Linked DNA regions of Homo sapiens: region 2 is linked to region 1. A link means that fine-mapping ties the variant in region 1 to the plasma level of a protein whose gene starts in the linked region. Region 1 holds a variant in brackets. A gene starts in the other region. All regions are shown on their forward strands.

Evidence for each region. PIP is the chance, under the fine-mapping model, that this variant and not a neighbour inherited with it causes the effect. Protein levels are from antibody-based Olink assays in UK Biobank. Linkage for the fine-mapping came from a reference panel and not from the study's own genotypes, which makes the PIPs less certain.
Region 2: it holds the start of CPM, and the variant in region 1 is fine-mapped to the plasma level of the CPM protein (UK Biobank, PIP above 0.99).

Annotation. Positions count from the first base shown.
Region 1 is chr19:44,924,210-44,929,582 of GRCh38, forward strand. It overlaps the pseudogene APOC1P1. Among named protein-coding and RNA genes, the nearest start is that of APOC1, 12 kb to the left of the region's middle. RefSeq lists an enhancer at 3,133-4,025. The variant C/G (reference allele first, on the strand shown) is at 2,814.
Region 2 is chr12:68,930,304-68,935,676 of GRCh38, forward strand. CPM (carboxypeptidase M) reads right to left here and starts at 2,868. Exons shown (of 9, transcript NM_198320.5): 1 at 2,839-2,868; 2 at 2,375-2,537. The coding sequence starts at 2,534. RefSeq lists silencers at 2,748-3,107, 3,138-3,247.

The sequences.
Region 1 (5,373 bases):
GATGGAGAGAAAGAGATGAGAGTGGTTTGGGGGCTTGGTGACTTAGAGAACAGAGCTGCAGGCTCAGAGGCACACAGGAGTTTCTGGGCTCACCCTGCCCCCTTCCAACCCCTCAGTTCCCATCCTCCAGCAGCTGTTTGTGTGCTGCCTCTGAAGTCCACACTGAACAAACTTCAGCCTACTCATGTCCCTAAAATGGGCAAACATTGCAAGCAGCAAACAGCAAACACACAGCCCTCCCTGCCTGCTGACCTTGGAGCTGGGGCAGAGGTCAGAGACCTCTCTGGGCCCATGCCACCTCCAACATCCACTCGACCCCTTGGAATTTCGGTGGAGAGGAGCAGAGGTTGTCCTGGCGTGGTTTAGGTAGTGTGAGAGGGTCCGGGTTCAAAACCACTTGCTGGGTGGGGAGTCGTCAGTAAGTGGCTATGCCCCGACCCCGAAGCCTGTTTCCCCATCTGTACAATGGAAATGATAAAGACGCCCATCTGATAGGGTTTTTGTGGCAAATAAACATTTGGTTTTTTTGTTTTGTTTTGTTTTGTTTTTTGAGATGGAGGTTTGCTCTGTCGCCCAGGCTGGAGTGCAGTGACACAATCTCATCTCACCACAACCTTCCCCTGCCTCAGCCTCCCAAGTAGCTGGGATTACAAGCATGTGCCACCACACCTGGCTAATTTTCTATTTTTAGTAGAGACGGGTTTCTCCATGTTGGTCAGCCTCAGCCTCCCAAGTAACTGGGATTACAGGCCTGTGCCACCACACCCGGCTAATTTTTTCTATTTTTGACAGGGACGGGGTTTCACCATGTTGGTCAGGCTGGTCTAGAACTCCTGACCTCAAATGATCCACCCACCTAGGCCTCCCAAAGTGCACAGATTACAGGCGTGGGCCACCGCACCTGGCCAAATTTTTAATTTTTTTCTAGAGATAGGGTCTTACTGTGTTGCCCAGGCTGGTGTCAAACTCCTGGGCTCAAGCAGATCCTCCTGCCTCAGCTTCCCAAAGTGGTGGGATTATAGGTGTGAGCCACTGCGCCCAGTCAGTAGCCCCCTCTTTGCCCCTCACTGAGCCCTACTGGATGTTCTTGGTTGTGTGACAGTTTCCCCATCTATTAAACAGAAACCCCTATAGCAGAGGGGAGGATGAGGTTGGAAAATCAGGAGCATTGTTATTCTATTCTTGTGGGATCGGGGAAGCAGACATCTGGGTGGATGTTTGGGGAATGCTGGGCTCAGTTGAGGAAGTAGGGGGGCCCCTGGGGCTTACAGGGACTGGAAGCTCTGAGCTGGCCAGAGGGATGTTGCAATCCTGCCAGGGTCTTGTCTATGCTGTCCCTTTCACAACCATCCCCCTACCGCCAGGCTGACACGTGGTTGTGGGGGCACAAGGCCAGCCGAACTAGAGTCTGAGGCTGGGCTGAGGACACCCTCCCCATCAGCTGCCAGGGTCACTGGCGGTCAAAGGCAGCTGGTGGGGAAGGAATTGGACTCCAGCCCTGGGGGACGGATGTGGTGATGGTGGGAAGCAGGCTTGGTGCCAGGAGGGGCATCAGAGGGTGAATAAGAGCAGATAGAGTGTTTGGGGGAGGTAGCCAGCCAAAGGGGGTGAGGCCCGGTGGAAGGGAAGAAGGGGCATACACTCAGAGCTTTGCAGCTGAAGGTTTTAATTTTTTGAGATGGGGTCTCACTCTGTCTCACCAGGCTGGAGTGCAGTGGCGCAATCACAGCTCACTGCAGCCTCGAACTCCTGGGCTCAAGCAATCTTCCTACCTCAGCCTCTTGAATAGCTGGGACTACAGGTGTGCGCCACCACGCTCAGCTAATTTTTGAACTTTTTTGTAGAGATGAGGTCTCCCTATATTGCCCAGGCTGGTCTCTTAACTCCTGGGCTCAAGTGATCCTCCTTCCTCAGCTTCCCAAAGCGCTGGGATTACAGGCATGAGCCACCATGCCTGGCCAATGCAGGTGAGGTTTTTAGTGTCCAGCTAAGGCGACCCCTTCCCTTTGCAAAAAAGGGAGACTGAAAATCATCAAGTTAAGAGCCCAGAGAATATCAGGGTGGTCTGGGATGTTTCAAGGGCTGGTCTGAAAGAAATTGGAGGTGGCACGCAGGGCAGGGTTGCGGGGCCAACTGGGAGGCCCCAGCAACATAAAGGAAAAGTTGTTGGGGCTGAGGAGGCTTGCTGAGAGAGGGGAAGTGAGGGAAAGAGGTGATCTAGGGACACGGTGTGAATGAGGGGGGGATGAGATCACAGGGTTATTACTGGGAGACCCCTGAGGGAAGATGGCCACAGGGACAGGACGAGGCTGTCCTCTGAGTGGGGAAAGGAGCTATGGTAGTCTGAGGACCCCCCAGAGTCAGGGAGATTGGGAGGTGAGGGTGCTGAATGGTAAAGGGCTTCGGAGCTAAGGGAAATGGTCAGGACCCCACCTGACCCCAACGCCCACGGGCCAGGGGCAGAGGAGAAAAACCTGGGTGGGCAGAAGGAGGCAATCTTCCAGGGGAAGGCTCAGGAGGAGGGAGATCAACATCAACCTGCCCCGCCCCCTCCCCAGCCTGATAAAGGTCCTGCGGGCAGGACAGGACCTCCCAACCAAGCCCTCCAGCAAGGATTCAGGTTGTTGAGTGCTTGGGAGGGACACCCGCCTCCACTCTGCAAGAACTCATAAAGGGAGATGAGGGGATCGTGGGAGGGAGGGAGGAGGGTGCCACTGATCCCCTGAACCCCTGCCTCCGCCTCCAGGGTGCCCCTCCGGCCTCGCCATGAGGCTCTTCCTGTCGCTCCCGGTCCTGGTGGTGGTTCTGTCGAT[C/G]GTCTTGGAAGGTAAAAGTGGGATGGGAGAATTGCGGAGTTGGAGATTTGGAAGAGTGAAGGTGGCTACAGGCCTGGGGTCCCGGCTTAGAGGACCTCTGAGAGCTCTGGGGCCCCTTCTTGGTCGTGGTTGCCCCATTGTGGTCGAGTGGGTCTCCAGGTTCGCCCAGGCTCAGTCCGGCAGGCGCCAAATCTGCCCAGGAGAGCCCTAGTAACCGATGACGTATGGATCTCCACACCTCTGGGATTGGCTGTCCTCCTTTTATAGCCTTGAAAGTGGGTGATGGGGCGATGGGCTGTGGGAGGAGGTCAGTGCTGAGTAAGGCAATTCCCAGCGGCTTGAGCCCCACGCGGTCACTTCAGTATCCTCCCCATTCTAACCACATGATCCCCAAGGATCTCCTTATCTATCCCCGGGATCCCACCCCAAGGGGGTTCCAATAACAAATTTTTGGTGGGGCGTGGCGGCTAATGCCTGTAATCCCAGCACTTTGGGAGGCCGAGGCGGGCAGATCACTTGAGGTCAGGAGTTCGAAACCAGCCTGGCCTACATGGTGAAACCCCATCTCTACTAAAAATACAAAACAGCCAGGCGTTGTGGTGCGCGCTTGGCTACTTGGGAGGCTGAGACAGGAGAACTGCTTGAACCTAGGAGGCGGAGGTTGCAGTAAGCCGAGATCGCACCATTTGACACAGCAAGTCTCCGTCTCAAAACTACAACAACAACAACAACAACAACCAAATTTTGCACCCCTGCCTCATCTTCCTGGCAGGCCCAGCCCCAGCCTAGGGGGCTCCAGAAGTCTCCAACCCCTTTGATGGCCTGGAGGAGTTAGGAAAGACCCTGGAGGACTACACTCGGGAATTCATCAACCGCATCACACAGAGTGAACTTCCTGCCAAGATGTGGTTAGAACCCTTCCCAGGGCACGGGAGGGCTGGGGTGTGTTTGTGTGGAGCCCTGGAGGATGTCCAAGATGAACAGATTGAAAAAAAAAACAAGTCCCAGAGAGGCTGACAGCATCCTTCTGGTCACACAGCTAGATCTCAAGGATCTCAGACGTCAGGGACAGTTTCCCGGACTCCCATCCAGGCCACATTTTAAAAGATGGTCTTGGGCTGGGCGCCGTGGCTCACACCTATAATCCTAACACTTTGGGAGGCCTAGGCGGGCGGATTGCCTGAGATCAGGAGTTCAAGACCAGCCTGGCCAACATGGTGAAACCCTGTCTCTACTAAAAGTACAAAAAATTAGCCTGACATGGGGGTGTGCACCTGTAATCCCAGCTACTCGGGAGGCTGAGGCAGGGGAATTGCTTGCACCAGTAAGGTGGGGGTTACAGTGAGCCAAGATTGCACCACTGCACTCCAGCCTGGGCAACAAAGCAACATTCCGTCACAAAAGAAAAAAAAAAAAGATGGTTTTGCTTAGGTACGGTGGCTCACACCTGTAATCCCAGCACTGTGGGAGGATTGCTGGAGCCTAGGAGTTTGAGACCAGCCTGGCTAACATGGCGAGATCCTGTCTCTATTTTTTTTTTTTTTTTTTTGAGACAGAGTCTCGCTCTGTTGCCCAGGCTGGAGTGCAGTGGCGCCATCTCGGCTCACTGCAACCTCTGCCTCCCCAGTTCAAGCAATTCTCTGCCTCAGTCTCCTGAGTAGCTAGGATTACAGGCGCCCACCACCACGCCCGGCTAATTTTTTTGTATTTTTAGTAGAGATGGGGTTTCACCATCTTGGCCAAGCTGGTCTTGAACTCCTGACCTTGTGATCCACCCGCCTCAGCCTCCCAAAGTGCTGGGATTACAGGTGTGAGCCACCATGCCCGGTGATCCTGTCTCTATTTAAAAAACAAAACAAAACAAAACAAAACAAAAAGCATACAAGCCAGCCCCGGTGCGATAGCTCATGCCTGTAATCCCAGCACTTTGGGAGGCTGAGTCGGGCAGATTACCTGAGATCGGGGGTTCGAGGCCAAGTTGGGCAGATCACCTGAGGTTGGGAGTTTGAGACCAGCCTGACCAACATGGAGAAACTCCGTCTCTATTAAAAATACAAAATTAGTCAGGCATGGTGGTGCATGCCTCTATTCCCAGCTACTTGGGAGGCTGAGGCAGGAGAATCACTTGAACCTGGGAGGCGGAGGTTGCAGTGAGCTGAGATAATGCCATTGCACTCCAGCCTGGGCAATAAGAGCGAATCCACGTCTCAAAAAAAAAAAAAAAAATTGAAAAAAAAAAAGATGGTCTTGTGGGGTAATGAAGGACACAAGCTTGGTGGGACCTGAGTCCCCAGGCTGGCATAGAGCCCCTTACTCCCTGTGTGATCTTAAGAGAGAGGCATTACTGTGAGCCTCAGTTTCCTTTCCTGTGAAATGGTGGTTCTGTGGGGAAGTAAAGCAGAAGGCCTATAGGGTGTCTGGCACATTGTAAATGCTCAGTACATCTTCAAATCCACACTTGCTCCCTTTGGCAAGTTAGAGAGTCATTCGTTCCTCAACACATATTTATTGAGCATCTGCTAAGTGCTAGAAACTGTTTCAATGTGGGGAATAAAACAGT
Region 2 (5,373 bases), not on the chromosome of region 1:
ATTCCTGACCTCAGGTGATCCTCCCGCCTCGGCCTCCCAAGGTGCTGGGATTACAGGCATGAGTCACTGGGCCTGGTCATAAATTCTGTTTTCTAAGCAAACTTATCTTACATCAGAGGGCAGAATGGTTAGGGAAAATATCTAGTGAAAAAGACCACCAACAAAGGAGCACCATCTCTCAATTGTCACACTAATGTGCAGTGACACTTTGGCAACTGACTCCCAGTTACTGGCATACAGTTTCATCTACCAGTTGGAGCCAAATGGCAGATTTGGGATTTTTCTTAATCCGAGTTATTATTCAGAACAACATATTCAACACAAATATTTAACCACTAGTGTCAGATTTTATTTTTACATGATAACTCCTCAAGCCTTTAACCGCAAGAGTGCATACAAGGTAAAATTAAAAACAAAATTAAGCCTGCTGACTTTCACTGTGATTGTGGTTTGATATCATGCAGGATAGATCACAACTGCTGATTCATATTAGGAAAGAGAGCCCCCAACTGTCACAAGCACATTGTGTTTGAAAATACAAAACCTTACCAAATCACTTAGTACTTAAAATTAACAACATCCTCATCATCTTGTGGTTGAAATGATGACTGAACAATAACTCAAGCTAGTTGTGTTCTATATATTTTTAATTAATATAATTAGTATTCCTAGATCTTTTTAAATTGCTCTACTCTAGCCCTAGGGAAAAATGATTTCAGAAGGCTGAATACGTATGCTGATTCAAGATATGATTTCTCACACACCCAACCTCTATAATTTTGGATTATAGAGCAATATAGAGTAATTCTGGCACCATCTCTTTGGCAATGCTGTTTAAAAACAAAGTTACTATTACACACAGCCCAGGATATTGACTTCGCATTGCACATAAATACATTTATATAATACTTTTTCTTTAATATAGAAGCCATAGCCTTGATTTTTTTGAAAAATGATGAAGAATATGGTAATTATGAGACTCTCAATTGACTCAAAAGTTCAGAGCTAAAATCAAGGTAGAGTTTGAACACACCTTACAAAAAGTTGAGATCCAAATTGCATAAAATTTATGAAACTTTTGATTTAAGGACTAAGTTTTCTGGTAACCTCTTTGGGAACATCAGGATAATAAAAGATGATTAAGTAATAATGGTATCTCGGCCGGGCACGGTGGCTCATACCTGTAATCCTAGCACTTTGGGAGGCCGAAGCAGGAGGATCACAAGGTCAGGAGTTTGAGACCAGCCTGGCCAATATGGTGAAACCCCATCTCTACTAAAAATACAAAAAAATTAGCCAGCTGTGGTGGCGCATTCCTGTAATCCCAGCTACTCGGGAGACTGAGGCAGGAGAATTGCTTGAACTCAGGAAGCCGGAGGTTGCAGTGAGCCGAGATCACGCCACTGCACTCCAGCCTGGGCAACAGAGCGAGACTCTGACCAAAAAAAAAAAAAAAAAAAAAAGAAAGAAAGAAAGAAAGAAAGAAAGATGAAATAACGATATCTGATCAAATTATTTGCCTTGGCCGGATGGGTGCCAGTCCTGGCTATAAAATTCACCATCTGGGAGACCTTGAACAAATTATTTAATTTATCTGATTCAAACTTGCTGTCTATAAAAATGAAAATAACTTTATGTAGTTTCTAACTTAGAACAATAAATTATTAATGATAAATATGAAAATGCTGGGAAGAGTTTCAATCACTACTAATATATATTCATTATCTAGCATTGTCTTCTTCAAATGGATACATTTTAAAAACAGCCTTTAATCATAGAACCACTTTTTTGCATAACTTTAAGCCATAGGGCTAATTATACACGACACAAATCTAACCAACAGAACTGTACTACTTAGATTAAAAGAAACTTGCAGAAATGATAGTTTTGCATAACTTTAAATAAAAGGCTAACTACAGATGACACAGAAATCTTACCAACAAAACTGCATTATTTCAGTTTAAAAGAGACATGAAGAAATGACATTAACAGTCCAAGTCATATATAAAGAAGCCCACACAAAGGGGAACTGAAACGGATAAACGGACTTACTTGGGAGTTTATCTTGAAAAGGAACTAAAACATACATCCCAAATAACCAATGTCTGCAAGATCCAAAAAGACAGAAGAACTCCAATAATGGAAAGGACTCAGTGACACTGAATTACAATGGACAAGTCCAGTAAAATTCAGTTCTTCCTACTATTCCTCCCAACAAAAGCAGAAAACAACCAACACGCACGGTACCGGTTGACTTGTTCTGTGCCACTCAGAGTAGGTGCGTGGAAGAGCAGACAGGAAGCTGGGGCATATTTAATGAATACTGAAAGGGAGGACTGAGGGTTTGGCAAAGTGTTCACGAGACGGACCCTACCTTTCACAGATTTCCCAATACTGTGTAAGTGAGTGACAGAACTGTAGTTTTGGGCAACAGTCTTCAAAAACGCTTCCATCCCTTCCTGGCGGTGGTAGTTGAAATCCAGCGCAGCTACCAAAGGCAGCAACAGCCCTAGCCAGAGGCACGGGAAGTCCATGTTCTAGAGATGAATAAAAATAAGAAGAACCTGAGAACACATGAGGGCAGGCGGGGGCATCACCAGCTACGTCTCGGTACTCCGGTCTCAGGGTCTCCCGACACTGACGCTCCCTGCCTCCTAAGGAGGCAAAAGCTGGAAGCAACACCTTCGGGAGTGAGCCGTGCAACCAGAGACCGGGAGCACGGGCAGCCTCGGTGCCCTCGACCCAGCCGCCCGCGCCTCCCTCTCCTCCTCCTCCTGGCGCCTCCGCCGTCCGGCAGCTGCCACAGCTGCGCCCGGCCCCGCGCACCCCCAGCCTCACCAGGTCCCAGGCGCGCACCTCTACCCACCCGCGGCCGCCCGGCGGGGCCGGGTGTTATAGCCCGGTCAGAGGGCGGGCGCGCCCGGGCCCCGCCCCCGGACGTCCCTCCGGCCCACTCCGGAGCCGCGCGGGTGCCTCCCGGGCGGGGCCTCAGCCGCCTTCGCACCTAGGAGAGACGGCGCCCGCGCGGTGCGCCCTTTCGTGGCGCGGCTGCTGGTGCCCGCGGCCGGGCGGCTGAGCTGGGCGGAGGGCTGCGGGCATGGAGTCGCCGCTCGCGGACAGTCTTTGCTGGAGCCCCAGGTCAGAAGTGTGTCCTCGCCTCGGCCACGGCTGTAGCCTGGGCAGCCACAGGGCGCTCCACCGAGGGACACTCTCTGTCGCAGACTGCAGCCGCTTGGGAGACGTTTAGGGCTCGGCGGGTTTCCTGCGGTTGGCGGTGCCGGGGCCCACCTGGAGCCGGGACGCATGCGGAGTCCTGAGTGCCCTGAGCCCCGCGCGGGCTCCTGCGGGACGGGCGGCGTCGGCCCCGGCAGGGCGAGCCAAGCTCCCAGCAGTGCCAAGCTGCCCAGCGAGGCTAAGCAATCACGGGGCTTCGAGAAAGAACGCGCGCGTGTGTGGAAGTTTTAAATGCCACGAAGTGCAGAGTGCAGGACATTTTCCAACAAGTTTACATAGTGGGTGGGATTTGTGTAAATTAGAATTGAATTTAAAACTGGAAGTCACATCGAAGAAGGCAGGACCACTGTTGTAAATCCGATGCTTCCTCCACCTGCACCTGAGTCTTAGGCCAATTACAGGTCTCTCGTCCTAAAACGTCCTAAAATGCTCCTTTCTGGAAGGATGGCATGGTCTCTGCACGAGAGAGAACGAAGGCTTCACTCAAACCTGAGAGGTGGTTTGTGGCACGGGCCAACCCCCTCTACCTCTCTAAAAGATTCATTCTCATTCATTCTCTCTCTCTCCCCTCCCCCTCTCCCCTTCCCTCTCTCCCCCTTTCTCCCACTCTCTCCCGGATTGTAAGTAACCGTGTCAGGGTATTGGGGGCCCGTGTCAAGGTCCGCAGAATATAAAAAGTTTGAAAACCACTGATTTGAGATAACATTCCACTTTTACAGACTAAAAATACGGATGCAAGCCCACGACTAATTGAATAGAATTTTTCTCGTGGAGGCCCAAGAAAGTGTATTTTTAGAGAGGACCTTGAATGAATCTAATGTGCCTTCAAGAGCTGAGAACCGTTAGATTCCCTGCCCCTTCTTTCTTACAGATATAGATACTTTTCCTAGAATTGCGCACTCAGGACTCCCTGAGACTTCCAGTGATTCTGCCGCAGCATAGAAGAGTGGTTTAAGAACTGAGGCGCTCTGCCCTTGCGATAGTTTGCTGAGAATGATGGTTTCCAGCTTCATCCATGTCCGTACAAAGGACATGAACTCATCCTTTTTTATGGCTGCATAGTATTCCGTGGTGTATATGTGCCACAGTTGTGCACATGTGCCCTAGAACTTAAAGTATATATAAAGAAAAAAAAAGAACTGAGGCGCTCACGGGATGAGTGCCAATTCTTGCTCTGACACTCAGTGGCTGTGTCGACTCTGTGCCTTATTTTCTGGTGTGTAAAGTGGAAGTCTTAATTGTACCTACCTAAATAAGGTTGGCAGGCACATTGTAAGAACTGTGCGAAGCGTTTATTACATAAATAAACCAGCTTAATTCGTAACTCTTTAAAGGGAATTTTCCAAGAGTTGGAATTTTTTTTTTAATTTTTTATTTCTTTCTTTATTTTTTGAGATGGAGTCTCAATTCTGTTGCCCAGTCTGGAGTGCAATGGCATGATCTCGGCTCACTGCAACCTCCTCTCAGGTTCAAGCAATTCTCCTGCCTCAGCCTACCGAGTAGCTCGGATTACAGGCACCTGCCACCAGGCCCGGCTAATTTTTGTATTTTTAGTAGAGACGGGGTTTCACCATGTTGGCCAGGCTGGTCTGGAACTCCCGACCTCGGGCGATCTGCCTGCCTCGGCCTCCCAGATCGCTGGGATTACAGGCGTGAGCCACCGTGCCTGGCCATCTTTTTTTTTTTCTTAAAGAGAAGTTGTTTTATTGTTTGTTTGTTTGTTTGTTTGTTTGTTTGTTTTGAGATACAGTCTCACTCTGTTGCCCAGGCTTGAGTGCAGTGGTGCAATCTCAGCTCACTGCAGCCTCTGCCTTCCAGGTTCAAGCGATTCTTGTGTTTCAGCCTCTAACGTACCTGGGATTACAGGCACGCATCGCCACACCTACGTAACTTTTGTATTTTTACACCACACATGCCTAACTTCTGCATTTTTAATAGAGACCAGGTTTCACCATGTTGGCCAGGCTAGTCTTGAACTCCTGGCCTCAAGTGATCCTTCTGCCTCAGCCTCCCAAAGTGCTGGGATTACATGAGTGAGCCACCTTGCCTGGCCTAAGAGTTGGAAGTCTTAGTATGACATTGTAGAGTCTTTGAGTAGGTTTTTTTTTTTTTAATTGTGCAGTAGTCACTATGCTAAAT